3 linked regions of the Homo sapiens genome follow. The protein of the gene in region 1 purifies or fractionates together with the protein of each later gene. This does not show direct contact. Each region holds a gene or a part of one and is shown on either strand. Other genes may lie near its edges.

Region 1 (11,210 bases):
GCAGGACGTGATGAAAACACCTAAGCCAAGTGATCCAACTTCATAACATCCGTGATGGGATAAAGTTACTTTCTGTACCTTCTAATATGATGTAATGGGAAATAATATCACCTACATAGTATTCTTGCCAAAAAATGTTTAATCTGAATCTAATCATAGGGAAACAATAAATCCAGATTGTGAAACATTATACAGGACAGCTGGTCAGGACTCTTAAAATGTCAGCGTCATCCAAAACACCAAGAACAACAAAAGGCAAGGGGGACGGTTCTAAATTAAAGGAGACTAAAAAGACATGAGAACAAAATGTAGTATGTGAACACTGATCGGATCCTGGATTGCAAAAAAAGAACAGCTATGAAGGAATTCTGAGGGACAACTAGAAAAATTTGGATATAGTATTACTGAATTAATGTTAACTTTCTTGGGTGTAATATGGAATTGATGTTCTATAAGAGAATCCCTTTTTCTTTTATTTTTCTTTTTTTCTTTTTTCTTTTTTTTTTGAGACAGGGTCTCACTCTGTTGCCCAGGCTGGAGTGCTGTAGCACGATCATGGCTCACTGCAGTTTCGACCTCCTGGACTCAAGCCACCCTCCCACCTCAGCCTCCTAAGTAGCTGGGCCCACAGGCGCACACAGCATGCCTACTTTTTTTGTATTTGTAGAGACGGGGTCTCACTATGTTGCCTGGGCTGGTCTCCTAGGCTCAAGCTATCCACCCACCTTGGCCTCTCAAAGTGCTAGGAATACAGGTGTGTGCCACCATGCCCAGCCAAGAATGCCTTTTTTCTAAAGTGATACAAGCTGAAGTATTTAAGTGTTAGGGTATCTGTGACTACTTTCAAATGACTCTGCAAAAAAATTTGTGCATTTCACATATACGTATAGAAGGAGAAAAAGAGAAATCAAACGTGGCAAATGTTAACAAATGGTGAAACTAAAGGATACACTAGCGTTTGGTTGGTTTTTTTTGTTTTTTGTTTTGAGACAGGGTCTCATTCTGTCATCCAGGCTGGATTACAGTGGCGAGATCTCAGCTCACTGCAGCATCAACCTCCTGGGCTAAAGCAATCCTTCTGCCTCAGCTTCCCGTAGCTGGGACTACAGGCAGGCACCACACCTGGCTAATTTTTTTATTTTTGGTACAGACAGGGTCTCGCTATGTTGCCCAGGCTGGTCTCGAACTCCTGGGCTCAAGCGATCCCTCTGCCTCAGCCTTCCAAAGTGCTGGGATTACAAGCGTGAGCCACCGAGCCCAGCCTACAAGTGTTTTATTATACGTTTCTTTCAACTTTTTTGTAGGTTTAAAATTTTTCAAAATAAAAGGTTGGGAGAAAAAGAAATTACAAGAACTTGACTGTGTTATTTAACTGAATGGAATCTCTCTTTAAAAAGATCAAATGTGAAGCTATTTACATTTATGCATTTCTGAGTATGTGGTCTGTAAAGTTTGGTCCCTGCAAACACAGAACAAACATGTATATATAGTATCATCTACATTAGATTTTATATTCTATACACAAAAGTATAATAGAGAATTAAGTCCCTAAGGAATGTTCTGGAGGATTTACTCATGCAGTGGTTAGAGTGGAGATTAAGAGTTGTGAGTGGCCGGGTGCGGTGGCTCACACCTGTAATCTCAACACTTTGGGAGGCCAAGATGTGAATATCGGTTGAGCCTAGGAGTTCGAGACCAGCCTGGGCAACATAGCAAAGCCTTCTCTCTACAAAAAATTAAAATAAAATAAGAAAAAAAGAACAAAACAGAGTTGTGAGTGGCCTCAGGGATCATCTATTATAATTTTTCAATGAATGTCACAGTTTTTTTAAAATAAGGAAAATGGATAAATGGAAAGCTCAAACAGGCAGTCTTTGATTATACTCTACATGTTTTCATATTGTTGTAATCACAAGATAAATACAATTTTGTATCATTTGTCAGTACATATTTATATAAAATAGTTTACATGTTATAGTACCTACACTTTTAGTGGCTTTATAGTCTATCAAGTGAATATATCATCATTTAAATTTTTTTCTACTGTTGGTAATTTTCTAATTTCCTGATATAGTAGACAACATTGCAATGAACACGTTTGTGCATATAGTTATTTTCTTCTATTAAATAGTTTTGTTAGGATAAAATTCCCAAGAGTGGCATTATGGGATTATAAAGCATAAACATTTTTAAGGACCTTCAATTTGAAAATACCAGCTACTCAAATACACATGTTTAGACACAGCAAGCAACATCTGGCACATGTAATGGAATTCCTGCAAGGATAACAGGATCTAAACATTTAAAAAGATTGCCTCAAGGTCATCCAGGCACCTAAATCCTGGCTTTGTCACTCAACACTCTATAGCCCTTTTTGCAAGGCCTGAGCCATAATAAAGGTTACATGGGCTCCTCTGCTCATGGAGCTTTTTCTATCCTGGTTATAACCTTCCCAAGAGGGAAACCTGAAATGACCTGAAAATAAAACATGTGAGAAGTCAAATAATTTGACCACCCACCTCCACCACCAATTCCCAGTTAAGCCATGACTTACTTTTCCAGTGCACTTCGAACAGGAGGCAACCCCCCACAGCTGTGTTTGTAGACTGTTTCCAGGATTTGACAACCATGAATCTGTGGAAAATACGGCCTTGTCAAACTGGATTCCATTCTAAGAGTCCATGCAAGACACATTCTTATTCCATATTCAACCAAGAGGGCACAATCTAGGAGAGACTGGGGATAAACTTTCTCCTAAGATTTACACATAGTGGTTCTCAAAGAGGGACCTCTCTCCCATCAGCAGCATGACCTGGAGACTCATCAGACATGCAAACTCTTGGTTAGAACCCAGCACTCAGTGTTTCCACAAGCCCTCCAGGTGATTCTAATGCACAGTAAAGTGTGAGAACCACTGCACTTAAAGCAACCAGAATCATTTAGAGTTGGAACACCAAAGCCAAGGAAAGCTTTTTATTTCAAGTTAAGGCCCAATTCAGTCTACTTCTAAGGTATATACTTTTTCAAAAATCCTCTGCCTCTATGTTCTTCAGACTTTTTTTTTTTTTTTTTTTTTTGAGACGGAGTCTTGCTCTGTCGCCCACGCTGGAGTGCAGTGGTGCAATCTTGGCTCACTACAAGCTCTGCCTCCTGGGTTCACACCATTCTCCTGCCTCAGCCTCCCGAGTAGTGCGACACAGGCACCCGCCACCACGCCTGGCTAATTTTTTTTGTATTTTTAGTAGAGACAGGGTTTCACTGTGTTAGCCAGGATGGACTCAATCTCCTGACCTCGTGGTCCGCCCGCCTCGGCCTCCCGAAGTGCTGGGATTACAGGCGTGAGCCACCATGCCCGGTCCCCAGACTTTTATTTTTACCACTTTGAGGTATAATTTACAATGAAATTCACCCATTTTAAGCATACTAATAAACAATTTTTAGTAAATTTCAAACACTGGGCAACCATTACCACAATCCAGTTTTATAACATTTCCACTACTCCAAAAAGCGCCTTTGTGCCTGTCTGCAATCAATCTCCATTCTCAACCCAAACCTAGAATTTTGACCACCTGATTTTAAAAACTCTGAAGAGCCTTGGTACACTAGTTTCTCTACCACTATTCTGGCAGGGAGGAAGATTCAGCCATCTGCAATCCCCCTATTTTCCACTCTCCTTCCTATAGCCAGCGGAAGTTGAAGGCCAACTGAGACGTGCAGCTAGGCCTGGCTCCCTTATGCTGTCCTCATTAACTCTATTTGCCTAGAATGTCTCCTTTTATTTTGGGAGATAGTTTAATCTAGTGGTTAAGAGCACACTCTTTGGAGCCAGATAGAGCTGGGATATAAACCCATTTACTACTATCTGTGTGACACTGGGCACACCCCTTAACCAACTTAGCCCTTTAGTGGATTGTGTGTGATAATGTATTTAAAGCACTTAGCACAGTGCCTAGTACACAGCCAGTGACAGTAAAAGCTGGATGTTGTTATTTGATGAGGACAATCAGCTTTGAAGGGCCAATGAGCACCCACCACTGGCTTTGCTGGCACAGCATGAACATAGCAGAGCACTGTTTCTACACTTACACAGTTAAAAATGATGCAGCAATGTGGCAGATTAACTGGTTTACTAGTTACATTAATGAAAATGAACACCCCTAATAAGCTAAGGCACAAATAAAGAGCTTAAAAAAAATGACGACTTGAGCTAAAGATGTTTAATCCATTTGTCCACTTGGTCCAATTGTGGACCAATTCAATAGGACAGCAGATTCTTCTAATATGAAATCTCAAAGCATTTATTCCTCAGACTTATTAACTCTGCCCAGAAAGACATTCTCCTAACTTCTCAATACACCTGATAAAAACTTGTGATAAGAATAGGCATATTTATTAAACATCTGGCTTTCACTCACTGATCTCAAAATTCTCAGAAAACTGCCAGCACACTAACCATAAACCTATTACCTTCTTCCTAAGAATTAACTTTCTGCTTCACACCCAACAGTTCTAAAACCTTACTGCAGGTTCCTCTCACCTGCAAACATCCACAGCACTTTTTTTCTTACCCCAACAACATTCTTGGGAACATCTATGAACATTTCCTCTACCTTCTGGACCAGGAGGTGTTTAAAGGCAGAGTCATACTTTTGCATTCCTGACACTTAACATGATAACCAAGCAGATATTGTTAAATGAATGAATAAATAAAAACTACTAAAAACTAGGGTCTTCGAAAAATAATGTAAAGCAAAATTAATTAGTAATATTCCCTCAGTGCTTAGCAAAGCAAAAGGAATAAGGAAAGTTCTCACCTTTTGACTTTTAATTTGTTCTACTACAACCATCACAGAGGGAAAAAGAAGCTGGAACTGCAAAGTAGAGAATAATTAGAAGGGTATGTAATCAAATGTAAGGGAAAAAAAATCAACTTGGGAAATGCTTTTGTTTCTAAATAGTTCAACTTAAGATAAAATGGCAATACCACAGAACAGTCAAGATCCAGCATCCTAAGGCAATTTGATGTGGAGGTTCGCTGCAGATAGGAAGAGGATGGCAGAGAGAGGCAGTTTCTTTTTTTTCTTTTTTCTTTTTTTTTTTTTTTTTGAGACAGGGTCTCACTCTGTCACCCAGGCTGGAGTATAGTGGTAGGATCCCAGCTCACTGCAACCTCCACCCCTGGATTCAGAACGTTAGCCTCCCAAGTAGCTGGGACTACAGGTGCACGCCACCACAACCGACTAATTTTTGTATGTTTAGTAGAGACAGGGTTTCACCATTTTGGCCAGGCTGGTCTCCAACACCTGACCTCAAGTGATCCAACCACCTCGGCCTCCCAAAGTGCTGGGATTAGAGGTGTGTACCACCATGCCCAGTCGGGAAGCAGTTTCTATTTCTGAGGCTGGCATACTTGTTAATACTGATGTCCATATAGAGCAGTAACATTAGCGTTAATATCAGACATTAAGTTTTAACTATATTTGGAAATCTTTAAACAGTTTTGATCTAGTAAAACATACAAAATGCACAAAATATAAAATGTTAGGCTCTGAATCCAGAAGAAAAAAAGTTCTCAAAAACAGTACCATAAATTAGATTATTCTAACACTATCAACAGATTGCAAGGCATTTGGTTATTTGGGCAGCATACCTGGTCTAGGAAGTAGTTGACATGTGATATGGAGAGATGGGGATCACCCAGGAACTGCAATAAAAAACTTTGTGATTAGAGCTCCACACAAAATATCTCAAATCTATTTGATCTATGAAAATGAGAAGAGAATCTCATGATGGGCTTAAGTGTTAATTTTAGGCTATCGAGAACTGATAATTTAATCAGGTTATTAATCCTGATTTTCGGGCCATAAAGAAACCAAGCCAGGGCTCTTATAAACTCACTAAAGAGTCTTTGCCATGATCTGTAAGCCACTCTGATCACAGGTTGGGCAATCACTGAGAGAACACTGTACCTTCCAGCCATGCAGGCAACTGCTCACTCTTAACTACCTGATCTTATCAAAGGGCATTTCAGATTCAAGAACATGCCCTAATCTACTGTCCCAGAGGTGTTTCCTATATCTCCTCCTTCTTACCTCTTGTTCCAAATCAAGCAGTGCTTGGCGATAAGGCTGCAAAACAGAATCCAGCCCTGTGCAGAAGGCCCGCAGGTAGATTCCATGTAACCCACCTTGGCCCTGTTGAGATGGATGGTGATCCTGAAATCAAACAAACAGAAGCCAACTTCTCAGCTCAGGCCCTGAAACCTGAGAAAGACATTATCAGGCTTGTTTCTTTTAAAAGTTATACAAACAAACCAATTAGAGGCCTTGCCTTCACTTGAATATTTCTAGTGATGAGAAATCCATAACTTATTTCACATGAATTACCGATAAATTCACTGAAAGCTTGACATAGCTCCTGCCCTCTAGAGGTGAAAGCTTGACATAGCTCCTGCCCTCTAGAGGTGTACACCCACAGAGAACAGGACCCACCTGCTGTTGCACATGGCCCGTGTACTGTTCAATGAACTCAGTGAAGCGAATATAGTCTGTGCCGAGCCGGCAGAGTCGATTCAGGACACTGGTCTCACTGGGGTGGAGGAAAGGGAAGTCCTGCGATACCTGCAGGAAGAGGAACACTGCCGAAAACACCGCCAGTCGCTGCCCCAACTTTCAGGTGCTTCAAACGCTTCATACTACACATTTATCGTTTTCTTTCTCAAGATGTCCACTTAAAGGTGTTAAGTTCTGGATAACAATGTATTTCCAAAGCACTTCAAAGGGGTTCCCTATCCCTGACCCAATTATTTGCTTCTTAAAATAGGTAACACATGCTAAATAATTTAAACAATATAAAATGGTGTACATTAAAAATAAGTCAACCACCCCAGAAGCAGCCGCTATTACCTGCTTCTTAAGCAATCTTCTAGGGATGGTCTCTAAGGATATGGGGGTTTTGACCTGGTTGCAACAAAGTCTCTTTAGCAATATTGCTCAAATGGGGGTCTGCAGACTCCATGGGTTTCTCAGACATATTCTTAGGATTTACAAATTCCCTATAGAAGTTTTCATTGTTTTCATTCCAGTAAAAATCTAAAATTAAGCATACCTATTATCTGTAAATGCACCTTATAACTGGCCATATATATTTAGTGTCCATATTTACATTTGTATTTTTAATTTAAATGAAAGCCAAATGATAGCCTAATATGCTATATACAAAGGTTTCACAGCAGTTCAGGTAGAAAAAAGTAGTGGGAAAATATATTCCTTCAACCAACTTTTTAAAAATACTGTGGTAAAATACGTATAATAAAATCTACCATTTTAGCTATTTTAAGTATATAGTTCAGTGGTATGAAGAACATTCACACTGTTGTGCAACCAGCACCACCATCCATCTCCAGAACTTTTTTGTTTGCCCCAAATGAAACTCCGTATCCAGCCCCTGCCAAACACCACTCTACTGCCTCTGACTTTGACTACTCTAGCTACCTCATATAAGTGGAATCACTCAGGTCGGGTACAATTGCTCACGCCTGTAATCCCAGCATTTCGGGAGGCCGAGGCAGGTGGATCACCTGAGGTCAGGAGTTCAAGACCAGCCTGGCCAACATGATGAAACCCTGTCTCTACTAAAAATACGAAAATTAGCCAGGCGTGGTGGTGGGCGCCTGTAATGCCAGCTACTTGGGAGGCTGAGGCATGAGAACTGCTTAAACCCGGGAGGCGGCGGTTGCAGCGAGCTGAGATTGCACCACTGCCCTCCAGCCTGGGCAACAGAGCGAGACTCTGTCTCAAAAAAAGTGGAATCATTATTTGTCCTTTTGTGACTGGCTTATTTCAGCTCATCCATGTTGTAGCACATGCCAGAATTTCCTTCCTTTTTAAGGCTGAACAATATTCCCTTGTGTGTATATACCACATCTCAATTACCTATTCGTCCCTGCACTGACACTTGCTTCCACCTCTCAGCGATTGTGAATAATGCTTGGTGAACACGGGTGTACAAATATCTGTTGGGTTCCTGCTTTCACTTCTTTTGGGATATACCCTGAAGTAGAACTGCTAGATTGTATGGGAATTTTATATTTAATTTTTTTTTTTAGAGACAAGGTTTCACTCTGTCACCCAGACTGGAATACAGTGGTGGGTTCATAGCTCACTGTAACCTTGAACCCCTAGGTTCAACCAATTCTCCCACCTCAGCCACCAGAGTAGCTAGGACTACAGGCATGTGTCACCATGCCCAGCTAATTAAAAATTTTTTTTTTGTAGAGATGGAGTCTTGCTCTGTTGCGCAGGCTAGCCTCAAACTCCTGGCATTAACTGATCCTCCAGCCTCACCCTCCCAAAGTGCTGAGATCACAAGTGTCAGCCGCTGTGCCTGGCCTTTATTTAATTTTTTGAAGAACTGCCATACCATTTTCCACAATGGCTGTACCATTTTACATTTCCATTACTATATCCCAGGTACTGTGCTAATACTTTGAGATAAAAGAGTGAACAAAATCAGATACAATTACTGCTCCAAAGGAACTTAGCATATTATATGGATGGATATATAATATGGATTATATGTGGATGCCATTTTATATGACAGTAAATGTGGTAACAAATAGGCGAAGAAGAATTTTTCTGTTACCAAGTCCATAGAAAATTGATTAGGAATCCAATTAATGTAGATTTTAATGACACAATGCTAATCACATCTTCAAGTTAGTAACTTAAGAGGTTGCACAACACGGTGCTTAAGAACCTGGTCTCTTGCCGGGCGCAGTGGCTCACGCCTGTAATCCCAGCACTTTGGGAGGCCGAGGTGGGCGGATCACGAGGTCAGGAGATCGAGACCATCCTGGCTAACACGGTGAAACCCCATCTTTACTAAAAAAACTACAAAAAAATTAGCCGGGTGTGGCGGCAGGCGCCTGTAGTCCCAGCTGCTCGGGAGGCTGAGGCAGGAGAATGGCGTGAACCCAGGAGGTGGAGCTTGCAGTGAGCCGAGATTGCACCACTGCACTCCAGCCTGGGCGACAGAGCGAGACTCCATCTCGGAAAAAAAAAAAAAAAAAAAGAACCTGGTCTCTGGAGCCCAACTGCCTGGGTTTGAATCCCTGAGTTGCCTCTTACTTGCTTGAAAGCTTAGGCAAGTTACTATACCTGTCTGTGCCTGTTTTCATACCTATAAACTGAAGAAAATAATTGTGAGGATTAAATAAGTTAATACATGTGTAAAGCACATATCCCAACCACATAGCTAGTGCTCAATACACATAAGCAATTTTATATTATTAACAAGACAGCTCTACCAGTTATCAAGTGATACTACTATTAAAATTGGCATTTGAGCGTTTCTTGTTGGCAGAGTTTTCGAAAAGTTCAATATCTAATTATTCTGAAACAGCAAATAATAACTCGAAGTTACTGATACCATTCTATATAACACAGTTATAGGAACAGGCTGAGAAATCCTGCATTAGAATAATGGTCATTTGAACTTATTGATTTGGTAGTTTTGTTTACTTTTAATTTATAAAAATATTTGATTTTATAGTTGTTTAAGAGTATTATGCTTGAGTTTATACCTAGCTTATGTATATACATATTCAATATAATAAAATAATTTTCATTAACACTTGGCACTCATGACAACTTTTCCCTTTACTCAAATGTAAAAGACACTGCTCTGCAGAAATTATGTAATATTTGCCATCTTTGTCTTCTTTTCTTCCATCAATACCTAAACACCTGCTATGTGGCAGAAACTGTGCTAGGTGCTCTGGGTAGATGAATGAAGAAGACCACTGGTCTTCGCTCCCAGGGGCAATCTATGCGGGAGAAAGGCTAAAAACAGGTAACAACAATACATTATGAATTGTGACAAATCCTACAAGGGAAATAAACAAGTTGATGGAGAATAATGGCATCAGGGGAGGATGCTTAAAGATGTGCTCAGAGAAAGTTTTTCTGACAAAGTGACTTTAAAGCTGAGACCTTGAGGATGAAATGGTAGAAAATACATGATTGAGAATTTTTCATAAGAAAGAAAGGAAGGGAAAAGATGAATTACTTGTGGTTGTCTCCCCCACCCCCTCCCTAGCTATCTTTCCTGTACTGTGTTATCTCTTCTTATTTTGGACCATCAGGCACCCACATACTTCCTAAATACTGTCCTCCTATATGCCTGGCATTGTACTAAGATCTATGGAGAAAAGTGAAACATCGAATTAGTCTTCAAAGACCTACAGGTGAAAGATAACAATTCAAACTCCACCACACAAATCTTCACCTGTTTTTTTCAAAAATTCACCTAAACTCCCAAACTCCAAATACATGTTCATAAATAATAACGAAAGGAAACTGTTTGATTTATAGGTTTTATAGACTAAGAATGTACTTTTTCTGCTCTTCCACAGTCTCCTAAGAATCGGCATGTCTTGGTGATCAGACGGACCTAGATTTCAGTCTTGCCACTACTAGGACTGGCCAGCATAAAGTTTTCTGAGCTTCAGTTTGCTCATTTGTTAACTGGTAGAAACAATACCTAAGTGGACTAAATTATTGAGAGCATTAGATAACATTACTGGAAGCAGAAGCAGGTAAAAGTAGTTCAAATACTGAAGCCAGACAGACCTGGCTTCAAAACTAAGCTCTGTTAATTACTAGCTATGACCCCGATAGTTATTTAACTATTCTAAACCTAGCTTAATCTGTAAAATGGATAAGGTGGTTGTGAGGATTAAATAAGATAATGCATACGGAACATCATACATTCCTGGTTACACAAAGGCCCCCTACCAAGTGCTTTACCTAGTGCAGAAATTTTCTGGTAAAGGAGTAATGAGGGAAACACCACACGCTCTCGATTTCATTTATTTCCTTCAACAAACTTTACTGAGCGCTTACCATGTGTTTGGGAGCTGTGTATTTGGCCCAGTACTTCAAAACTCAAACAATGCACGTGTGAAAATAAATAGGAGAAAGTGCCTCCCACACTTCTATATCATTCCCCAGCAACTGTCAGACACCTGGACCTCAGGCCCTTTCCTCGCCCCGCCACAGGTGGGGCTCTTCGAGGTCTGCCCTCCGTTTTCTAGCCTAGGCCCGGCCTCTCTAGGTGTCGCATCAGCCTTGACCCTAAGGGGCTGCCCTCCAGTCACCTGTCCAGGGATACGCCCCCAGCCCTGGAAGCCCCGCTCGCTAGGTCCCTCA
Region 2 (11,210 bases), on another chromosome or scaffold:
CAAGCCTGTGGGTGCACAGAGTACAATGGCTGAGGCTTGGCAGCCTCCATCTAGATTTCAGAGGATATATGGAAAAGCCTGGGTATCTAGGCAGAAGCCTGCTTCAGGGGTGGAGCCCTCATGGAGAATCTCTACTAGAGTAGTGCAGAGGGGAAATATGGGGTTGGAGCCCCTACACAATGTCCTCACTGGGGAACTGCCGAATGGAGCTGTGAGAAGAGGGCCACCGTTCTCCAACCCCAGAATGGTAGATCCACTGACAGCTTGTACCCTGAGCCTTGAAAAGCTGCAGACACTCAACAATGCCAGCCCACGAAAGCAGCCATGGGGGCTTAACCCTGTAAAGCCACAGGGGCAGAGTTGCTCAAGGCCTTGGGAGCATACCCCTCCCACCAGTGTGTCCTGCATGTGGGACACAGAGTCAAAGGAGATTTTTTTGGAGCTTTAAGATTTAATGACTACCCTGCTGGGTTTGGAACTTGTATGGGGCCTGTAGCCTCTTTCATTTGGCTGATTTACCCATTTTGGGATGGGAATGTTTACCCAATGTCTATAATCCCATTGTGTCTTGGAAGTAAATAACTTGTTTTAGATTTTACAGGCTCATAGGTGGAAGGGACTTGCCTTGTCTCAGAACTTTGGACTTTTGAGTTATTGCTGGAATGAGTTAAGACTTTTGGGGACTGTTGGGAAGGCATGATTGTATGTTGCAATGTGAGAAGAACACATGAGATCTGGGAAGGGCCAGCGAGGGAATGATAGTTTGGATGTGCATCCCCACCCAAATTTCACCTTGAAATGTAATTTCCAATGTTGTAATCTCCATTGTAATCTCCAATGTTGGAGGTGGGGCCTGGTGGGAGTTGACTGAATTCATCCCTCATGAATGGTTTAGCACCATCCTCTTGGTGCTGTACTCGCTAAAGTGAGTGAATTCTTAAGAGTTATGGTTACATAAAACTGTGGCACCTCACTCTCTCCCTCTCTTGCTCCTGTTTTTGCCATGTGACATGCCTTCTCCCCCTTTGTTTCCATAATGATTGTAACCTTCCTAAGGCCTCTCCAGAAGCAGATGCCACTATGCTTTCTATACAGCCTGCAGAACTATGAGCCAATTAAACCTCTTTTCTTTACAAATTATCTGGTCTCCGGTTTTTTTGTTTTTGTTTTTTTTTAAGAGGAAGTCTTCCTCTGTTGCCCAGGCTAGAGTACAGTGGTGTGAATCTTGGCTCACTGCCACCTCCGCCTCTTGGGTTCAAGTGATTCTCTTGCCTCAGCCTCCCGAGCAGCTGGGATTACAGTGCCTGCCATAATGCCTGGCTAATTTTTTTATTTTTAGTAGAGATGGGTTTCACTATGTTGGCCAGGCTGGTCTTGAACTCCTGACTTCAAGTGCTCTGCCCACCTCAGCCTCCCAAAGTACTGGGATTACTGGCTTAAGCTATCATGCCCGGCAGGTATTTCTTTATATCAATTCAAGAATGGACTAATACAGAGTCTACCATAAAAGTGAGGATAGTAGTTACTGGAGAGGAGAGCAAGAGAGAGGGGTTAGTGACTGGGGAGAGGGCAGAAGGGGGATTATCTGGTGCTGGCAGTGATGGTTGCATGGATATTCTCTTTATGATACATTTTAGCTCTACAAATGTGGTTTACCCTTTTTAGTTAGATTTAATAATCAAGAGATTTTAAAAAGCACAAAAACAAACCTAAAGAATAAGAACTCATTGGAAAATAATCTGAAAGATATGTAAATTGCATGTTTTAAATAGTTGATTTCTTAAAGGTAAGAAAAAAGAGAAGTCACTTTGTATCAGGTATCAGAAGGTTTTATTTGTTTGTTTGTTTTTCCCCCCATTGACCGTCTCTATGAGCCCATGTTTTGGACAAGTTTTAAGATGAACTAACTTAAAGTTTCAGTATTCAAAGTGAGTTAGTGCTATATAAAAAGGGAAATAAAATCACAAGCTTTTAAATCAGAAAGTCTGTGGAAGACAGAATAGGACATGTTTTTAGTTGCCAATCTGAGCAATTAAAACGTGGTTAATTTGAATTGGAAAAAAGGTGGCCCTCTGGGAACCTGGTGGCAGCAGCAGTCCCATGGTCTCTGAGGCGCTCTTGGAGTCACTTTTTCCTTTTCTTGAAGGATAACACATGGGCCCTCAGCTGAGCAGCTCTATCAGCCAGTTTCCTGTCTAAACAATCCCACTAATCTGATAGCCTTCTTTCACTTCATCCTGTCCAAGCTGGCAGTGTTTGTGTTGAGATGGTTGACTGGCTCTATCACATACCTAATGTCTTCACAAAAGTGTAGCCACACTCTTAGCCCTGTCTCCAGAACATGTTATTCAGACAGGCTGAGAATTTTCTAAATTCTCAGATGCTAGTTCCTTTTCTCTTAGCAGGTCCTTACTCGATTGCTCATTTGTGTCACATTATTAAGCAGCAAAAAGAAATCAGGCTACACCTTCCACAATTTGCTTGGAAATTTCCTCAATGAAATATCCAAGTTCATTGCTTACATATTCTATTTTCCTTCCAACAATAGAACACAATTCAGCCACAATCTGTCACTTTCTTTTTTTTTTTTTTTTTTTTAGATGGAGTTTCGCTCCTGTTGCCCAGGCTGGAGTGCAATATCGCAATCTTGGCTCACTGCAACCTCTGCCTCCTGGGTTCAAGCAATTCTCCTGCCTCAGCCACCCAAGTAGCTGGGATTACAGGCATGTGCCACCACGCCTGGCTAATTTTGTATTTTTAGTAGAGATGGAGTTTCATTATGTTGGTCAGGCTGGTTTTGAACTCCTGACATCAGGTGATCCACCCACCTTGGTGTCCCATAGTGTTGGGATTACAGGCATTAAGCCACTGTGCCTGGCCCATTCTGTCACTTTCTAACAAAGACCACCTTTCTTTTAGTGTCCAATAAATGTTCCCCATTTCCATCTGGGTCTTCACTAAAAGTGCTTTTAACATTTACATTTCTAGCAACATTCTGATCCTAATGTTAGTCTCGAAAAAACTCTGAAGCTTTCTCTACAGTTCTTTTCTCTTCTTTCTGAGCCCTCACCAGAATTGCCTCAACATTCACAGTTCTACTAACAGTTCCTCTTCAAGGAAATCTAGTCTTTTTCTATCAAGCACCTTAAAACTTTCCAGTCTCTATCCAATACCCAATTCCAAAGCCACATCCTCACTTTTAAGTATTTGTTACAGCAACACCCCACTTCCCAGTACCAAAATCTGTATCAGATTTCTGGGACTGCCATAATAAAGTAACCACATATTAGGTGGGTTAAAACAACAAAAATCTATTTACAGTTTGAAGGCCAGAAATCCATACCTACTATACATATTTAACCAAGGCGTTAGCTGGGTCATGCTCTCTGACAGCTCTAGGGGAATATCCTTCCTTGCCTCTTTCTAGCTTCTTATGGCCACAGAAAATCCTTAACTTTCCTTGGCTATTTGTGTCCAAATTTCTCTTCTAAGGCCACCAATTATTGGGTTAGGATCTACCCTAATCCAGGATGACCTCATCTTAATTTGATTATATCTGCAAAGGCATTATTTCTAAATAAGGTCATATTCATTGGGACCAGGGGTTAGGACCTCAACATGCCTCTTCTGGAGCAGGCACAATTTTACTCACCAAATAGCACAATTCTAAAAACAGACTTCTGGGAAAACATAACATGGTCCATGGTAGTAGTAATTTTTCTTTTTTTTTTTTTTAGACGGAGTCTCACTCTGTCACCCAGTCTGGAGTGCAGTGTCGCCAACTTGGCTCACTGCAAGCTCCGCGCCTCCTGGGTTCACGCCATTCTCCTGCCTCAGCCTCCCAAGTAGCTGGGACTACAGGTGCCCACCACCACGCCTGGCTAATTTTTTTGTATTTTTAGTAGAGAATGGGGCTTTACTGTGTTAGCCAGGATGGTTTCGATCTCCTGACCTCATGATCCGCCCAACTCAGCCTCCCAAAGTGCTGGGATTACAGGTGTGAGCCACTGCGCCCGGCCTAGTAGTAGTAATTTTTATGATATGAACATACACTATTGAGCTCCTGGTCTTCTAGTGGTGTTGCATGTTAGTTTAACCTTGTTTAACCAGGATGTTTCCCATAACTTCATCATTAATCATTTTTCTAAATAAAAGCATCTTTATTTAGAATGAACTAATAGGAATCTCCAACCTTCAGTGCTTCAGTAGCCTTGCGAAGCTCCTTAATAACCGATGATAAAGCTTCTGGGTTAATTCCTTGTTCACAAAGCCGTACACAAATAGACAGAGTTTCCATATCTAAGCCAGTATTCAAAATTCTTGAAATCTCAAGCAGAACTGAAAAAAGATACAAAAAAAAAAAAAACTTAAGGCTTACAGCATTTAAAAATATGCATATAGTACTTTCATTAATTTATATATCACTGCACAATACCAAGGAATTAGCATAGCATCCCAGGTTTTGGAAATCTGCATGTAATACTTTCTTGCCTTTACTTAGTTTTAGAAACTTAAATATAAATATAAACTTACACCTTCCCTTCACATAACTGCCTTTTACATCTTGCTATATATTCTAGCACTTGTTTAATATCTAACATGTATCCACCATACTTAGGATAATTCTGAACACTTGCTTATTTTTTAGTATTCTTTTAAAATGCAGTTTAACTAGTCGCATATTATTCCATTTTATGGAAACACTATACTTAACTACTCTGTTACTTTAAAAGTTAGGCTGCTCTCATGTTTCTCTCATTAAAATAATATTGGTAAGAATCTGTACATACTAAATTTTATTTCATTAGGATAAATTTCTAGAAGTAGAACTGCTCAGTCAGTAATATACATATTTAATTTGCTGAATTGACATACAATAGTCAAAAAAAGGTAATGTACATATTTAAGGCTTTAAAAGTGTTTAGAAACTTTTATAACAATTTGACAGCGTAATCATGTCTGTTGAATCTAATAATAAAAATGAAACCTTATATTTTTTAAACTTCATTTGTATAGTACTGCATTTTATTGTAGTTGATAGAACTCATTGTCTTTAACATGAGAAGCACAAACAGAGAAACTTGGTTTCCAAAGTGATTTTCAGAATCCCTTCCATTACAGGTTGTAAGTACACCGGTTCCACTGAATTTTGTTTTAAGATTGCTTCCCAGAGAGTATTTAGAATATTTTAAGTCAACTGTCAACATATTATCTATTGTTTCCTATATCATTTCCCCTTGGCATTATGCTTAGAAAATTATTCCCCATGAAAAGATTATATCCACCAGTATTCTCTTCCAGCACTTTGAAGTTTATTTCCCAAAACCCCCCATAAGTATTTATCTCCCTAGAGTTTGGGTGGAAAATAGGATCTAACTTTTCCTCCCAGAAATGAGCCAGTTGCCCCAGTAAAATTTATTGAATGACCTAAGTTTTCCCCACCCAGTTGAGATGCCACCTTTATTCATAGTAAATTCCCATATACTTACAAATTTGTTACATGTCTATCTTTTGTAAGGGCAACCATTTAATTTCTAACTTTATATTGCATGTAGTAGGGTAAACATTCCGTTGTCATCTTTCATTTATATAAGCCATTTTATTCTTCGGATGAACTGAACATTTTTCATCAATTCTAAAAACAAATTCCAACTGGATTCTGATTAACTGTATAAAAACTACATTATTATTTTGGGAAGAATGGACAAGTTATCAATATTTAGTCACCCATTAATTTAAGTCTAAGTCTTTCTGAAAATTCTTATAGTATTTATCATGTTCATGAGATAGGTCCCTCCCATTTCTTCCATATCAGATATTCACTTTCATCCCTAGAAGTTCAATTTGAGCCGGGCGCAGTGGCTCACGCCTGTAATCCCAACACTTTGGGAGAGCAAGGTGGACAGATCACCTGAGGTCGGGAGTTCGAGACCAGCCTGACCAACATGGAGAAACCCCGTCTCTACTAAAAATACAAAATTAGCCAGGCAAGGTGGCGCATGCCTGTAATCCCAGCTACTTGGAAGACTGAGGCAGGAGAATCGCTTGAACCCGGGAAGTAAAGGTTGCGGTGAGCCGAGATTGCGCCATTGCACTCCAGCCTGGGCAACAAGAGCAAAACTCTGTCTCAAAAGAAAAAACAAACAAACAAAAATAGCAGTTCAATTTGAGTCTTAAAAAAAAAAATGTCTTTCATGCCTCTACTAAACTTTTTGGAGATATGGAGTATAGTTCTGATGCCCTTGTCTGCTAATTCTAACATCTGTGTGATCGGGGGGGTGTTCGTTACAATTGACTGAATTTTTCACATCATGGGTCATACTGTTCTGCCTTGCATATCTGGTAATCTTTGATTGGATGCCATGTACTTAGAATTTTACTTAGGTACCGGATAGTTTTGTATTTCTAATTCTTGAGCTTTATAATGAGATACCGTTATCTGGAAATGGTTTGATCCTTTCGGATATTACTTCTTAGATCTGTTAGGCAGGACCAGAGCCCTGTTTAGGATAGGGCTAATTATTCCCCTTATGATTGAGGTAAGAATTCTGAGTACTGTATCCAATGTCTTATGAATTACAAAGATTTCCATTCTGGCTGGTAGTTACAGGCACTATCCTCAGCCCTGTGTAAGCACGGTGCACGGTTCACTCTAATCCTTCTAGATGGTTCCCTCCCAGCTTTCTGAGTACTTTCCTCACACATCTGCTAATCAATGCTCTGAATACTTAAGGGGGACACTTCTACAGATCTCCAGCATTCTTTCTGTGCAGTTCTCCCCTCTCAGGTACTGTTATTCAAACTCTACCTGCCTTGGTCTCCCAGGTCTTCTAAACTCCTCCTACTCACTTCAGTGTGTCCACTGGGTTCTCCCTGCTATACTGAGGCCTGGAACTCTCTGAAGGCAGTGAGCTGGGGCAACCCAAGAAATCACTTTGCTTGTTTCCTGTCTCTAAGGGATCACTGTACTCTGATGCCTGATGTCCAGTGTCTTGAAAACCATTGTTCTGTATGCTTTACCTGAGTTTTCTTGGTTGTTTCAAGTAGAAGCATAAATCTAATCTCTGTTACTCCATCTTGGCTGGAAGATGACAGCTCTTCCCATTTTCATTTCTTCAGTTTTGATATTCCAATTTACTGATACTTTGCTCTTCAGCTGTATCCAGCCTGTTATTCATATTATCTGCTGAATTTATTTCAAATTTATTTCAGTAGCTTTCAAGATTTCTAATTTCTAATTTCTCACCATAAACACTTGTTTTATAACTAAATGCTTATTTATAGTGACAAATTTCACAGCTGTTGTTCCTGCCTTCGTCTATTTAAGGCTATATTCTTAAACTGTATTTGAGATTGCTCTATTATCTCTATTTCTTGGAGTATAAGCAAGCAGCAAAAGACAGTGGTTAGGAGTGTGATCTCTAGAGCCAGACTACCTGTGTTCAAATTCTAGCTGTAGTATTTAGTAGGCAAGTTACTCTCTCTGTGCCTTATTTCACCATTCTCGAAAGTGAGGATAATAAGAGTACCTGTTTTAAAGGATTAGTGTGAGAATTAAAGGATACACTTAGAATGGTATCCATTTGTTTTGCTGACACTGCCTTGCAGTCCTTTGGAATGGTGCTTGGCATACGGTAGGGCTCAATAAAAAAGAGTTCCCTGTTACTACCACTTTCCCTCTTTTTCCTTTTCCATGTTAGTTGCTCATGTTTTTCATCTACCTTAGGTGCTTTGTCATTCTTGGCTGAAAACTCATCTTCCATAGATTTATTTTAGGTGTCCTGGACTGGTGGCCCATTCTAAGATAGGAAGCCGTACCCTAGCTTTAGGCCTCTAGATCAGGCCTTGTAGTATTTTTGGTCCAGATCCAAAAAACACATGGATGGTGCTTCTCAATCTCTGGCTGTGACAAATGGCACATTTCTGACTCCCAACTTCAGTGAGGCAGGGTAGCATGCTTTGTCAGATTCTATTCCCGACAATCCCCTGCTGTGGTTCCCATCTGCTCCTTTCTTTTGGGGGGAAACCTCTCTCTTCCTAATCAATGGAGACTTCCCTTCTTGCTTTTGAACAGGTCTATCCTGATAATTATATTTTCTTACTATTTCCTATTTTTTTATATGCTTAGAGTTTCAGCAAGTGCTCAATCTACCATATTGAATCTTCACTTTATTTTTGACTGTCTTCACAAATGGATTCTACTTAGCCCTTGTACATTCTAAGTGGTTACCATCAGTATACTGGAACACTACATATTAAACTTTTTAATCACCAGTCACCTTGATGAATTCTATGATGCTTCTAACAGTTTTTCAGTTGATTCTCTCCCTTCTCTCTCCAGTTTCCAGTTTGTTCTCTTCATGGTAGACCCCCCCACGTATAAAGGCTATGCTTATTCCTGACTTCATGCCTTTGTTCTTGCTTTTCTCCTCTGCCTTTTATCCTCCCTTCATATAACTCAATGCTGTTTTCTTAGTCCATCTCATTTGTGGTTTCTTCTTTAAGCCTTCTTTTCAAATGGACACCTATTTTTACTTCCTATTTTCACAAATCGCCTGTAATCAAAAACTATTTCTTTAGTGCCTACCATATGATCAGTACAGGTTGAACACTCCTAATTCCAAAATCTGAAATGTGAAATGCCGCAAAATCCAAAACTTATTAAGTACTGACATAACACCGTAGTGGAAAATTCCACACCTCATATAATGGATCAAAGTCAAAATGCAGGTGCACAATACACAGTTCATTCAGCATCCCTGAGGGAAAAAACCAAAATTACCTTCAGGCTATGTGTATAAGGTATATATAAAACATACAAGAATTCTGTGTTTGGACTTGGGTCCCATCCCCAAGATATCTCATTATGTATGTGAAAATATTACAAAAAAAAAAATCTGAAATCCAAAACATGGTCCCAAGGTTTTTGGATGAGAGATAATCAACCTCTAACTATATGTATTTTGTGCCTATTATGCTACTGCTGCAAATACAGTTATGAACAAGGTATATATGGTCCCACTCCTCACAGATATTAGTCCAGGAGGAGAGATAGATATTAAAGTAATAACTGATTCCAGATATAAGTAAAATAAATAAAGAGTGGAATACTTCTGAAACAAATTACAAGGGCATCTTACCAAGTTTGGAAGGACACAGTGTTTAGCAAAGACTTGTCTGAAGAAGTGACAATTACACTTAGACATCAAAAGTGAGTAGAAATCAACCAGACTAATACAGAGGCAGGAGGAAGGGTGATGGTTGAGAGCAAAGAAAACAGCTTGTGTGATGGTCCCTACACTAGAGGGAACTTGGTAAATTCAGACCTGAACTGCTATTGTGAAGGCAATGTAATTAACGGGGTGAATGGGTATAAAATATGAGGTAAGTCCTAGTGAAGATCTTAGAACTGTGGAAAGCTACTGGATGATATAAAATAGGAACATAAAAAAATCAAACTTGCATTTTAAGGACTTTTTGGCTGAGTATCAAATGAATCTTTAAAAAGTCCAGTTATATCACAATTTTGATAAAAGACTGGTGGGTAGGATGAACAGGAGATATTTAGCCAACCTGAAATGAGTCAAGAATTGAAAGGGCTTAGTGAAGAACAGGAGGCAGAGGAGGTGAGAAAGCAAGACTGACTTCTAGATTTCTTTCTCAAATGTGCAACTGGATTGATGGTGGTAGCATGGACTGTTTCGCTGGTACTGCCTTGCAGTGCTAGTCAAATGGAATCTATATACCATAGATTCTCTTAACTCCTTTCTCTATAACGTGTTTTTTTTTTTTTTTTTGAGATGGAGTCTAGCTCTGTCACCCAGTCTGCAGTGCAGTGGCGCAATCTCAGCTCACGACAACCTTCGCCTCCCAGGTTCAAGCGATTCTCCTGCCTCAGCCTCCCAAGTAGCTGGGATTACAGGCACCCGTACTTACTACTAAATATATATATATATATACATATATATATATATATATATACACATATATATATGTAAAGTGGTGCTACAGGCCGGGCACAGTGGCTCACGCCTATAATCCCAGCACTTTGGGAGGCTGAGGCGGGTGGATCACCTGAGGTCAGGAGTTCCAGACCAGACTGGCCAACATGGTGAAACCCTGTCTCTACTAAAAATACAAAAATTAGCTGGGCGTGGTGGCGGGCGCCTATAATCCTAGTTACTCCAGAGGCCAAGGCAGGAGAATTGGTTCCCATCCCCAGCTTCAACCTGGGAGGCGGAGGTTGCAGTGAGCCAAGGTCGCGCCACTGCACTCCAGCCAGACTCGGTCTCAAAAAAAAAAAAAAAATAGTGCTATGATAAAGCCTCTCATAAGGAATAATTATCAAAATTAAAATTCAGATGCACAGGACGATTTTAGAGGAAAATAAAAATTAAGGTATAAAAAGCAATCAATAGAGAGTACCTAACATACCAAAAAGTTGAAAAGCAAAAGAGGCAACCATACACAGTGGGTTGCGAGGGGGGTGTTGTTGAAAAGGCACGACTATTTTAAGCGTGTAGAATTTTAGGGATATAAGGATGAAAGCAGAGATCTCATGCAGACCTTATTCTAAATTGGCAGAGATAGTTCTTTTCAGAGTGAGGTGCACAGATAATTTATTAATAGAAAGTTAGCCTGCTTCCTTCCATGTCTTTAACAAAATCCTTTCATTTCATGATCAAAATGCAAATGTAGCCAAGAGTTCTGCAATTCACATGACTTAAAGGGAGGTTCACAAATGCTACCATTGAGGGGAGAAATGGTATTCAAAAAGTTTTGAAAATTTTATTTTTGATCTCACGGGTTGATTTAAATACTGTGTAACACCACATCCCCTCTCCTTCATTTTTTGTTTTACTTCACTTTTTTGTGTTCTTACTCTCTTTATAATCTTCATTTCACACCAAGTTTTCTCAGAAGAGATCTTGATGATGCAGCCAACACAAACCATCAGTTCTCAATTGTACATCAGTGATTCCACCAGAGAAAATGTGAGTTTTCTGTTCAAATGGGATCCTGTGGCCATATACATAAGGAACCTAAGTACAGCTAACCTAAGAAAATAGGCTAGAAGTGAGGTCTTATACTCTACCTTTTTCCAAGGAAATATACAAGACAGTAAATTTATATTTATATACACACACATATATATATTCATACATAAATCCACTTACAAAATAAAACTATTAAGTGTTGATACATCGAAA
Region 3 (11,210 bases), on another chromosome or scaffold:
GGCCTACCAAGGTAGCCAAGGCTGTAAGAGCCAAGGTCTTGAAGAGAGGAGGCCTGCAGAAAACTAAGCCTGAAACTGTGGAATTTCCCCTCAAGACATCTGTTGACTTCTAAGCAATGCTCCCCCTGGGTTAGATGGCAGGAAACCAACCAAAAAACAAGTAACTAAAGAGCAGAGAAAGTATTCTGGAAGTCTTGTGATGCTGGCAAAATAGAGGCTGAAGTTTGGGACCCACCAAGGTAAAAAAGACAGTGAATACTCCAGACATTCAGCTGATGTCCTAGAAAAGACTACACACTAGGAATAAAGGCAAACTGGAAACAAACTAGTGCTAAGAAAACCTGAACCTAGTAACCAAAGGATCAAAGGGATCTGCTTGCCAAAAGAAACTTAAATCTTCTTAATAGACAACAGAAACAGATGCACAGATTTCCACTTAGGATGTATTAGGTTGGTGCAAAAGTATAATTTCTCAACTCTAATAACGAAAACAAACCTGATAACCTATAAAATCATATTATTTTAAATTCAACCGAGAGCTGAGAATGGAAAGAAATCTAAATGAACTAAAATCCAGAAAATGAGGAGTTCCTCTTAGGAGAAAAGAGACCCATGACTAGGAGAAAAGAGACCCATCTTCATGCCCTTGACAGAGTAAAAAGAACTAGCTGAAATTTTAATAAGATTTTTAAAAGCCAAGTAAACACTGCTTGATAGTTTAGAATTCCAAGGGGTCCCAGCCACAAGGAGAGTCTCAATTTACTCACCAACTTTTTCCCACAAGCCTTCATTCAGCGCTCATGTAAAAAAAGTAGGGACAAGTGTAACAGGAGGGCTGAGGGAGACTCCCTAAGATACAGATGCACAGAGCCTGGTGAAACCTTAGGGCAGCAGAGAAGAACTGAGAGTAACCCCTCTAAGGCACTCCAGGCTCTCATGGAGAAGATGGCAGCCACGGGAGGATGGCTGAGAAAGAGGTCCTCAATACCCTCTCTGTCCTGCCAATGATAGGTGTAGATGAACACCTAGTCTGATGAACACCTAGGCAAATGGCAAAACAAGTGAATTTATGGAAATCCTCTGAGCCACTCTGGGTCTTCACTGCGTCCCAGGCAGAGGCTGCCTATGGTCAAAGGGCAGAAGAGCTGAGAGAAGTCCCTACCCACCACTCCTAGGTGCAGACATGCAGCACAGGGCAGCAAAACCAAGAGGCACTGACTGTACGTCTTCACCAAACGTGCTGCAGCAGCTCTGCAGGGCTGAAAGTGGGACAGACACACTTCTCCTGAGGCACAGAAAGCCAGGAACAGGTTAGATAGTGAAAAACAAGCTCCAGCCACCCCGAAAGCTGGCAGCAGGGCAGAAATGCACAGCGATTTCAGAGTTGCTCCAGCACTCAGATCCCTGGGTCTGCTGAAGGAAAGGCCCTGAGCCCACTGTCCTCAAATCATCTGAAGCCAGTGGTGAACTGACACCCAAATGCTTGTTGAATAAATGGGTAATAAATAGACAGCACCCATTACTCCTGTGCTTAAAAACTCTGATGGCTCTCCATTACCTGTGTGTTAAGACCTTCACAACTGTCCCTCAGGCCTGGTCTCTTACCACGGTGCCTTCTCTCTGCAAACATTCCTAGAATGTATGATCATGTCTCTGCTCAAGCTGTTCCCACACACATCAGTATAAAATAAAATCTCTTCAGTGTACCTTTCTAAATCTGCCCCCACAGAAGAACTGCTCCCTTTCTGTGATTTCAACATCACTTTGCTCACACTGTATTATAGTCAGCTGTATCCAGACAGTTCTACTATTATGCCATAAATATTTATGCACTCCTGAAAAAAACGTATATTCTTTAACACTGTGTATTAAAAATAACAGAACTTAGGGAAAAAGGATTAGGGCAAAGCACTCAAAAACCTATGCAACTTTGTAACCAGAGCACAACAAAAACAATTAAATCCTAATAAAAATACTAACATAGTTAAAAAGACATAGTAAAAATCTAATAGATAATTATTGAATAATACCCTTACTGTGAAGAAGTGATGGTCACTTAATGGAAGAGGATAGAAGGATTGCGGCTATCAAGTTACAGAGGCAAGAGCAAAATGCCCAAAGATGGGAAATAATCACAAAATAAGTACTTCTAACAGACCACACAGCCAAGCCAAGAGGAAGTGAATAAAAAGAGATGGATGCTGACGGGGTTTGCTGCATTCAGCTGTGTTCAGGTGTACTTTATTTTGGCTGCTATTACACGAACAAACAAAATTTCCTCATCATATTGTCAACAGTGTTCTATTCTACTGATCCCAAATGAATTAATTCACATTAAGAGAAACACACATGGCAGAACACACTGCACCTAGCCCAACTACATCACAAGGCCTTTGTGGCAGATCATTTGATGTATCCTTAGTATCTGGTACATATACTAGGTAGGGTAAATGCCAAAATTACAATTTTTCTTTAAAAAGTATTTTTCGACATTTAAAAATATATTTTAAAAGTATTTTAAAACATTAAAAGGAAGCATGCACCAACAAAAACTGCACATTTTCTCCAACATTCTTGCTTACGGTAATCCAAATCTGAGCTACAACATTAACTATAGGTTAGAAAGGAAAAAAGGCACCAATGATTTTAATAATTGAAGATAGCTTCCAAAAATATTGAGATGATAAAAGAAAGCAGCATTGTAGAACACATTCTTAGAATGTTCACAATTCGAAGGATGAGACAGACAAGGATAAGTCTGAGAAAGAATTTTTTTTAGATTAAGTATTACATTCTGATGCATTCTATTGGAAAACATTCAGAATTGTGCTTTAAAGTATCTTTTTCTACTACATTATTGCACACAGCATACCTAATAGATCTATGAACATACTGCAGGTTAAGAACCCAATTTAAGCTTACCAGAACTTGTCCACATTTTAATAATAAAAAAAGTTCACAATGGCAGTCTACCTGCTAGACTGCCCTGCTGAGTTACCTAATAATTGCCCTAGGTAAATGTGCCTTTTCCTGGCTCATAATCAATAAATGCAGTACGAAAAGATCAACAAAACTCATTATGTTTTCTATGGCTTTAGGATTACCAGAACCTAGACAATAGTAACCAACAACATTATCTATAGTTCTGGTTTTACATCTAAAAAAAAAACAAGTAAGGTCTAGATAGAAGGAGTAGTTTCTCAATTACTACCTAAAGTCATCCAACGTTTCCTGTATCATGTTCTGAATAAAACGAATTTGAATGGAAGTCAATGGTGCATTTTGCCGGTTATTTCCAATGCTGTCGGCTATTTTTTCTGAGAGTGAACTGGCAACTCCAGCAGTGACAGAAGATGCTATCTTTGGATCTAAAATAAAGAATGAAGAAAATATTAATAGTCAACTTGGACTGAGAGACATCAAACATTTCTAAATAAGATTTGGCATGTGCAAACTTGAAAAACTGGCAAAGAAGAGTGTTCCTGTGACATTTAGAAAAATTCACTGTCTGGAATACAAATCTTAGAAACTTTCTATAACATTATTTCTAATAGTCATTTATCTATATATATAAACTGCCAGCTGTCTAATGTAATACCACATGACAGAGGGATTAATCTTGAAGAATCTATGAACCATTTCCTCTTATAAAAGATGAATGTGACAAGCTGCACCATAAACTAGATAAACCAAGACTATTAAAAACAAACCGAAGGAAAATAGGAGTAAAGTACTGCTACAGGAAAAGCCTTAGAGTTTAAGCTAATGCAATATATATCCACAGAAAACTTCAAGCAAAATATAGATATTTATATGAGAGTTGATTGTAAACAAAGAGTTGCTTTGTGTAGATAACTCTTAGAGTTAAACCAAATATTCCTTTAAATGTGATGAAGTTTGTATGGGTCTGCAGCACAAACTCTAAGGATAAGACTTTAATATGAAAGAGAAAAAGACATTTTCAGGTAGTTAACCAACCCTTTTCAAAGGGTCCTACATAATAATTCTATCTCTACCATATTAAAGACACATATTACACTGAAAATCTAATTCACACCAAAAGATCAAATCAACGTACCTGAATTTAACGATTCATATCCATTTCATTGTCTTTAGTAACACTCACACAACAGAAGTGTCCACAAACTTTAAACTCTTTGAACATTTTTAGTCTATGATTACTCTATTTCTCCTTTACAAGTTAAATAATGGGGATGATTTTTCAATCAAACACTTTCAAACATCAGGAAGTTTCATGTACTTACTTGGAGTTGAGGATCCATTGATTGGGGGTTCACATATCAACTGGGCTTCAATTTCATTCTCTGGCTTTTCAAATTTCTCAGAATTTCTTGTTTGGTTAGATGATGGAGAGGTATTTAGATTTCCACTTTCAGCACCAGATGTGACCAACTTTGCTAACTTTATATTTAAAATAAATAATGACTTTAATATACAATTTTTTTACTCATATTACCCATATAATTTTTGCCTACTTCTCTCTTTTGTCCCAGTATGTAGGTTAATAGAAATGAAGGAAAATAGGAAGAGATATAGAAGAAGAAAAAGAAAAAGAGAACTGGAGGCAAAATAAAGTAACACTTACTAATCAAAAACAATCTCAACAATAACATGAGGAAAAGCTCATTTACTAAGCACCTGCTGTTAAGTATCATTTAAAATAGAGATAACTGGCAAAACAAAAACAAAAACACCATGCATGTGGTAACCAGTCAATAATATTTGCAAAATAAATCAAAAGATGTTTTTGTACTTCTTACATGGTATCTTTTCAATATCATTCTAAACAATAAATACGAAAATACAGACATATTGTATACCCAACTGGCTTGGCCTTCCTGGTAATTTTTGATCATTTTGAACCCTTACATAAAAAATTAAATTCTGTATTATATATATATATTTTAGCAGAAAGTAACAATGATAAATTCCATTCTCAGCACCATCAGTTTGCTCTAATGATTTAACCACCAACTTGATGTTGTATACTGCAATGAAATACACTTTAAAAGGATTCAGGGATAAACTGTTCTTGCACACTTTATCAAGATATATCAAGTATCTCATCTTAGAAAAATACTGCAACTTTCCATCTGCTGTAACCTTCAACATATCCAAAGCGAGATTTCAAAGTATTCTGTAGTTATTAAAATCTGACATCAAGACTTATGAATAAGTGCATAGCAATGCTAATAATTAGGATACATGCACTGGCAGCCACCCACTTTCTACTGATAAACACATACAGTGAGTTCAGTATCATTTTCAGGCAAATACCTGTTTGAAGGAGTCTTTAGATTCCTGTTTTCCCATATATATTTTCTTAGACTCAGCTGTTAGATCACGGTTTTCATTTTCCTCTTTCCCTGGAGATCCCATAAAAACATTAAGAGGACTAGAATGCAATACTGAAGTACTTGAAGTTACTGGATTTTTTCTTGGAGGAAACACTGAGTTCAACTGCGGTAGAAAGTCAAAGCCTGGAAAAGGGAAAAACTGCATGTGCATATGGTGTCCTCCAATTTTGGACATTGAAGAAAAGCATTTAACATGATAGGCAGATTAACATGGAAGAAGATATGGATCTGCATTCTGAAGACTGGTTTGTTTCTCAGATACACCCCGCAATTGATGTGTATTTTTGGGCAAAAGTCTTAAACTTTCTGTGACTATTTCCCGATCTACAAATGTAAATGATGATATCCATCTCCCAGAGTGGTAAGGCTTCAAAGATATTATTTGTGAAAATACTTTGAAAACAGCAAAACACAATGTTTTAGTCAGTATTAGTTCTTGATAACTGAAAATTGTTAATTTGGTATATATCTGTGGTATGTATCTTGGAAGGCAATTTCTGAGATGGCTTCTAATGACCCCTGCCTTTGGCGTCGCTATCCTTGGGTAATCTCCTCCCTTTGAACGTGGCTTGGACCTAGTAACTTGCTTCTAACAAAAGTAATATGAAAAAGTAGTGAGATGTCACTACCAAGATTAAGGTTATTAACATAATCTTAAGAGAGGGCTTCCATTTTGGATGCCCTCTCGAATTCTCTTGTTCACCGGCTCTGAGGTAAACCAGCTGCCATGTTGTTGGCTGCCCCATATATAAAGAAGCTCATTGGCATGGAACTGATATCTCCAGCCAACAGCCATAGGAATGAGCTTGGAAACAGTTCCCTGCCCAGTTGAGTCTTAAGTTGAATGAAGCTCTGGTTGACATCCTGATTGAAGCAGGAAGATAGACTTGAAGGCAAAGGTACTCAGCCAAGTCATGCTCAGTTCTTAATACACAGAAATTATGAGACGATAAATGTTTATTTTTTTAAGCCTCAAAGTGTTGGAGAGATTTGTTACACAGCATAGATAATACAATTCACTTTTCATTTTCACGAAAATACTTCTAAGTAGTTCTTACCATCTCCTTTGCCTATGGACTCATCACTTCCCTTGTTAACTACAGCATCTATAACAAATTAGAAAATCAAATTTTAAAACTAGTGAAAAAGAAACCATATCAATTTAGGCTTCTTATTCATTCCCCAAAGAGTTCAGAGACTAACAATCTTAAAAAGCTAAATATGAGTGATGTTAAAGGTAGGAGAATACTGATTTAAATTTCTCTTTTACATTATTTTAGCTTCATTCACACTTTAGCAGCAAATATGAACAGATAATTCTATAGTACAGTCATTTAATGAGGCAGCAAGGTATAGTGTAACAAGCCCTGGTGTAGGGGGTAGGTTATGGAGAGCTATAATCCAGTTCTGCCTATACCACTTAATAGCTTTGTGACCTTGGACAAGTCTCAGATGCAATTAAGTTTCAGTTTCTGCATCTATAAAATGGGGATAATGTCCAGATAAGCTCACAAAATTGCTTTGAGGATCAATTGAAATAATACAAAAATATTTTGCAAAGCAGAACAAAGTTTTATTAGTGTTTATTTCCATGGTAGAATATGTATAAGATTATTTTAATCCTGTAATATTCATTTGCCAGTCCATAACAAAAATTGTAAAATTCAAATTTAACAGGTGAATTAAAAATGAGCCAAAGTCATTAACGAATTTACTAGAAATTCAAATGGCCAATAAACACACAACTATATCAGGAGAAATATCATCTATGTGCATGTGTGTATATGTTCCCAGTAATTGCACAGCATGTACATGCACACTTTTAGAAGTTATTAGCTTCCTTATCAATACTTTGGAACCATAATGAATCTGGAGGGCGTATGACTCAAATGCTAGTAACATTTTTAAACATAGCAAAAGTAATTAAAGAAAAAAGTAATTTATTCATTTGTCTTAAAAACTATTAAAGAGAATTTAATTTATAACTCAAACACTTCCAAAAAGCCCCTTTGTACATTCTTCAATGCAAAAGTTCCTCCAGAGGAGTCTCACTGGCCAAAACTCGCAATTCAGCACTAATCCCAGAAACCTTTCTCAACTCCAGCACTAGTCACTTTTCTCTCCACCTACATCCGTCCCTCTGTTTACCCTTTACAATGTAGTTTGATGTAGTTCGACTTCTCTTCATCCTGAAAGAAAAGAATCCTTCCTCTTTCAGTTTGACTTAGCAATTTAAATAGAAATTTGCAGGCCAGGGTAAGGCAGAAGATACTCAATAATTCTGTACCACCACGTATGTATTTATTCCTTCTGACTATAAAATTGTAGAACATTTGGAAAAGAGACAATTTTAAAGTAAAAAATGAAATTGTATAAGATAATGAGTGGATGAAACAACTTCGAGATCCTGCTGTTGACATGGTACACTTATAATAATAAATACACAAATCTTTGTGGGCTTCTCTGAGTATTTTCTGAGATAAATTTGTAGAAATGTAAATACAAGGCCAAAAAGTATGAATATATTAACTCTGTCAAATTACCCTCTAGAAATGTATCCATGTTATTAATATTGCTGTTAGCAATGAGGTAACTCCATTCCACTAAGAAAAACATTATGGATGTTAGTACCAAAAAGACACACCTAAACAATGTACTTAGTTCAGACACTATGAAGAATAACAAATAATGCTTCTATTTATCAAGCTGGCAAATTTGCTTTTTATTATGCCAACTTTTTTATGGGGTGGTGGGAGGTGTACACCTATACACACACAATTTTTTAAATTAGGAAGACTTTTTTGCATACCAAAACATCTAAAATTTTAGGAACATTAATTTAGAAGTAGATACAAGGGACAGATTGCCTATGAAGGTAAAAACTTCCTTCAAGAAACTTTTGTGGAAATTAAAATGCTAACTTGAGAGCTATTTGCATAATTCCCATGTGAAAATTACCAGCATATATTTTACAATGATAACATTTGAAATATCAGGGCAAAGAAAAAGATACCACCCCAGGGATGGAGAAAATTAGCAAACTGATCCGTGAATAGAGTTGGACTGAAGCTATTATTCACATCTTTTAGCCAGAATAAAAATATTAACTACCAGCAAGAGAACAGGATCCTCTGAACAGACTTACCATCTCTGATAGGTGAGAACATGTCACCTAAACTACTTTTCCCAGTATCATCAAAGCTGGAGAAATCCTGATTTTTTCCACTGTCTGTTTCCTTAGATAAAGTGTCTGTGTTTATGCTTCGAGGCAAACCTTATAGGAATTAGATATAAAAATCAATGTTATTACATCTAAATAAATTTTATCATAAGCTAGGTTGTAAAAATTAATGTATCACTCATATTGTTGGTAATATTACAACTATGAGCATAAGGAGAATAAAACAGAATATGACAAGAGCTAAAGTTAATCAGGATTTTCATGGAACAATAAAACAGAATATGACAAGAGCTAAAGTTAACCAGGATTTTCATGGAACAAAAGGTTCCTCAAAAGAAAACAGCTTATTTGTTCATACAGTAATACCTTATTTTAGCCATTTTGTTGGAATTTTTCTAAAATAATTTATATACTTTGCTGCTCTCTTAAAGTACACTGAACACAACTTACTTTTGCTATTGACTGACTCATGATCATCTACAAATGTGATTTTTTTTTAGTCTGTAAGGCATATAGAGCGATGCCTAACATACAGCAGGATTCAATTAATGTTACTTTTCTTCCCTGACTTGCAGTGAAGGGGTTTTCTGTCTTTTCTTTCACTAACAGTGGGAGCTTAACATTGCCCTCAGCATTACAGATCTCAAATGACTTCACTAACCTCCATAGTTTCAAAGAGGAAGCAAACCAGAACACCAAACTCATAAAGAATAGTAAGGTAGACAACAATAAAGAGACGGCAGCAGTTTATTTTTTCTGGCAGTGTATAAACACATGGCTTTAGAGTAGGGACCTTTTAAGAGGAGCTCAGCAGGCTCAGAAGCTTCTGTTTCATTACTGGAGTAACGACAGTTTTAGAGGTTCAAAAATTTTGATTAAAGTCTGCCATCAGGATTGGTAGCACATTACTGTATTACATTTTAAAAAGTGCTTTATTTGGCATCTCAGGCCCAAATGAAAAACTGAAAAGTCTGAGATGAAAACAAAGAACAGCCTGCATATCCAAAAATGCCCAAGACTGGCGAATAAAATAAACTTTTCTAATAACACCTGCTATAAAGTTAAAATATTACCAAATCATTTGTACTATTGTTGAAGAGTGTCTATAGCAAGAGTTCAGTTGTTACAAAGAAGAAATTTCCTCTCCTTTTTTCTAGGTCCTTAACATGTTTGAATGCATAACTCAGCCTCTGAAACTTTAGGAAACAGAAGTTTGGTATCATTTGAAAACAGCGCTAAAGTCTTATTCTTTTCTTCTTAAATGGTGATTTCCTTCTAAAACTAAGTACCAATAACAAGTTTAGAGAAGTTCTTTGAAATAACTGAATCAGGACAACTTCAATAGAAGCAACAGAATTTTTTTCTGAACTTTAATTTTATACAAAGCTTAAAATAATAATAGTGATGATCATGATGACCACAATGATAGTATCAACACCATAGTGTACTGAGTGCCTACCATGTGCCAGGTACTTCCAATACATTTTATCTGATTTTCACAATAACCCTAACAGTTAAATGTCATCTTAAATGTGTACAGGAAAAAAATGAGACCCAGAAAGGTTAAGAGAATTGCCTAAAAGCATCCTGGCCGGAAGTGACAGATCTGAGACTGAGTCTACTATTCTCAATGTTTCAGAGGCAAAGAAAAATGTGTGTGTGTGTGAGAGAGAGAGAGAGAATGAGAGACAGAGAGAGGAAGAGAAAGAGAATGATGAAGCAAATGTGGCAAAATTTATAAAGTGCATCTGCCAAAGGGTAATGCTCAGGAGTTATCTGTACTATTCTTAAAACTTTTCTGTAAGATGACAATCATTTCAAAATACAATTAATACACAAACATTGTTAATTTTGTGGGGGCAGAGCACTCACTTTGCCAGAAATGTTGGGAATCTACCAAGAGTTATCGTTAATCCATGACCCTGAAAGATCCAAGCCTTTGATTTGCAAATTAATGCTGTCTTTGTTAAACAAGAGCCTTCTTACTATAAAACTAAATGAATAATGGAGAGACTTCAGAGAGTTTACAGTGAATGAGAGAATCTTTATTTTGTTTAATTTTTGAAAATTTTGAAAAAAGATAATTTTCATAATATAGTTAATTCAACATGTTGGCAGACATTACTCAAAGTTATATTTCAAAAATAATTTCTTCCTTAAGTAGATATCAGTTGTCTTTGTCTCCAGGAGTTCCTAAATAAGAACTTAATTATTTTCCTAATATATAATGGCTCTTATATAAGGATGATACAGATATTCACAGGAAATTTATAGTGAATATACTTACTTTAAAATACTACTCCACACTATCAAGATCAACAAATTAAAGTTTTGCTTCTACTTGGAAATAGCAAAATCATGCTAAAAAAAAACACCAATAAATATTTTTGCCCAAGTATTTATCCTGAAAAATTTAAAAGACATGGATATATGTATTTCTACTAAGCACAATATTTCAGAAACATACTAGTATACCATGTAGACTTTCTAAAGTATTTGTTGCACGTTGACAGTATAGCATAACTTCTTAAAATAAAAATGAAAAGGTTTTCAGGAATTTACAGAATATTTTTTTATTGTGAGCAAGAAATATTTTCTACAATAAGAGAAAGCTTATCATATAACACATCAATAAAGTCTAAATGAATCCT

The links.
Region 2: the proteins of TUBGCP4 (region 1) and MZT1 purify together in Homo sapiens (affinity purification with mass spectrometry; 3 studies listed by BioGRID and IntAct, with this or other methods). This does not show direct contact.
Region 3: the proteins of TUBGCP4 (region 1) and NEDD1 purify together in Homo sapiens (affinity purification with mass spectrometry; 3 studies listed by BioGRID and IntAct, with this or other methods). This does not show direct contact.

What each region holds. Positions count from the first base shown.
Region 1 is NC_000015.10:43,371,508-43,382,717, reverse strand, and holds part of TUBGCP4 (gamma-tubulin complex component 4), read right to left. Parts: intron 6,621-11,210; coding exon 6,492-6,620; intron 6,264-6,491; exon of another isoform or gene 6,216-6,263; coding exon 6,093-6,215; intron 5,705-6,092; coding exon 5,651-5,704; intron 4,872-5,650; coding exon 4,815-4,871; intron 2,635-4,814; coding exon 2,555-2,634; intron 1-2,554. UniProt on the Homo sapiens protein: Component of the gamma-tubulin ring complex (gTuRC) which mediates microtubule nucleation.
Region 2 is NC_000013.11:72,714,760-72,725,969, forward strand, and holds part of MZT1 (mitotic-spindle organizing protein 1), read right to left. Parts: intron 4,339-11,210; coding exon 4,193-4,338; intron 1-4,192. UniProt on the Homo sapiens protein: Required for the recruitment and the assembly of the gamma-tubulin ring complex (gTuRC) at the centrosome.
Region 3 is NC_000012.12:96,937,851-96,949,060, reverse strand, and holds part of NEDD1 (protein NEDD1), read right to left. Parts: intron 8,653-11,210; coding exon 8,524-8,652; intron 6,485-8,523; coding exon 6,437-6,484; intron 5,502-6,436; coding exon 5,299-5,501; intron 4,423-5,298; coding exon 4,266-4,422; intron 3,369-4,265; coding exon 3,212-3,368; intron 1-3,211. UniProt on the Homo sapiens protein: Required for mitosis progression. Promotes the nucleation of microtubules from the spindle.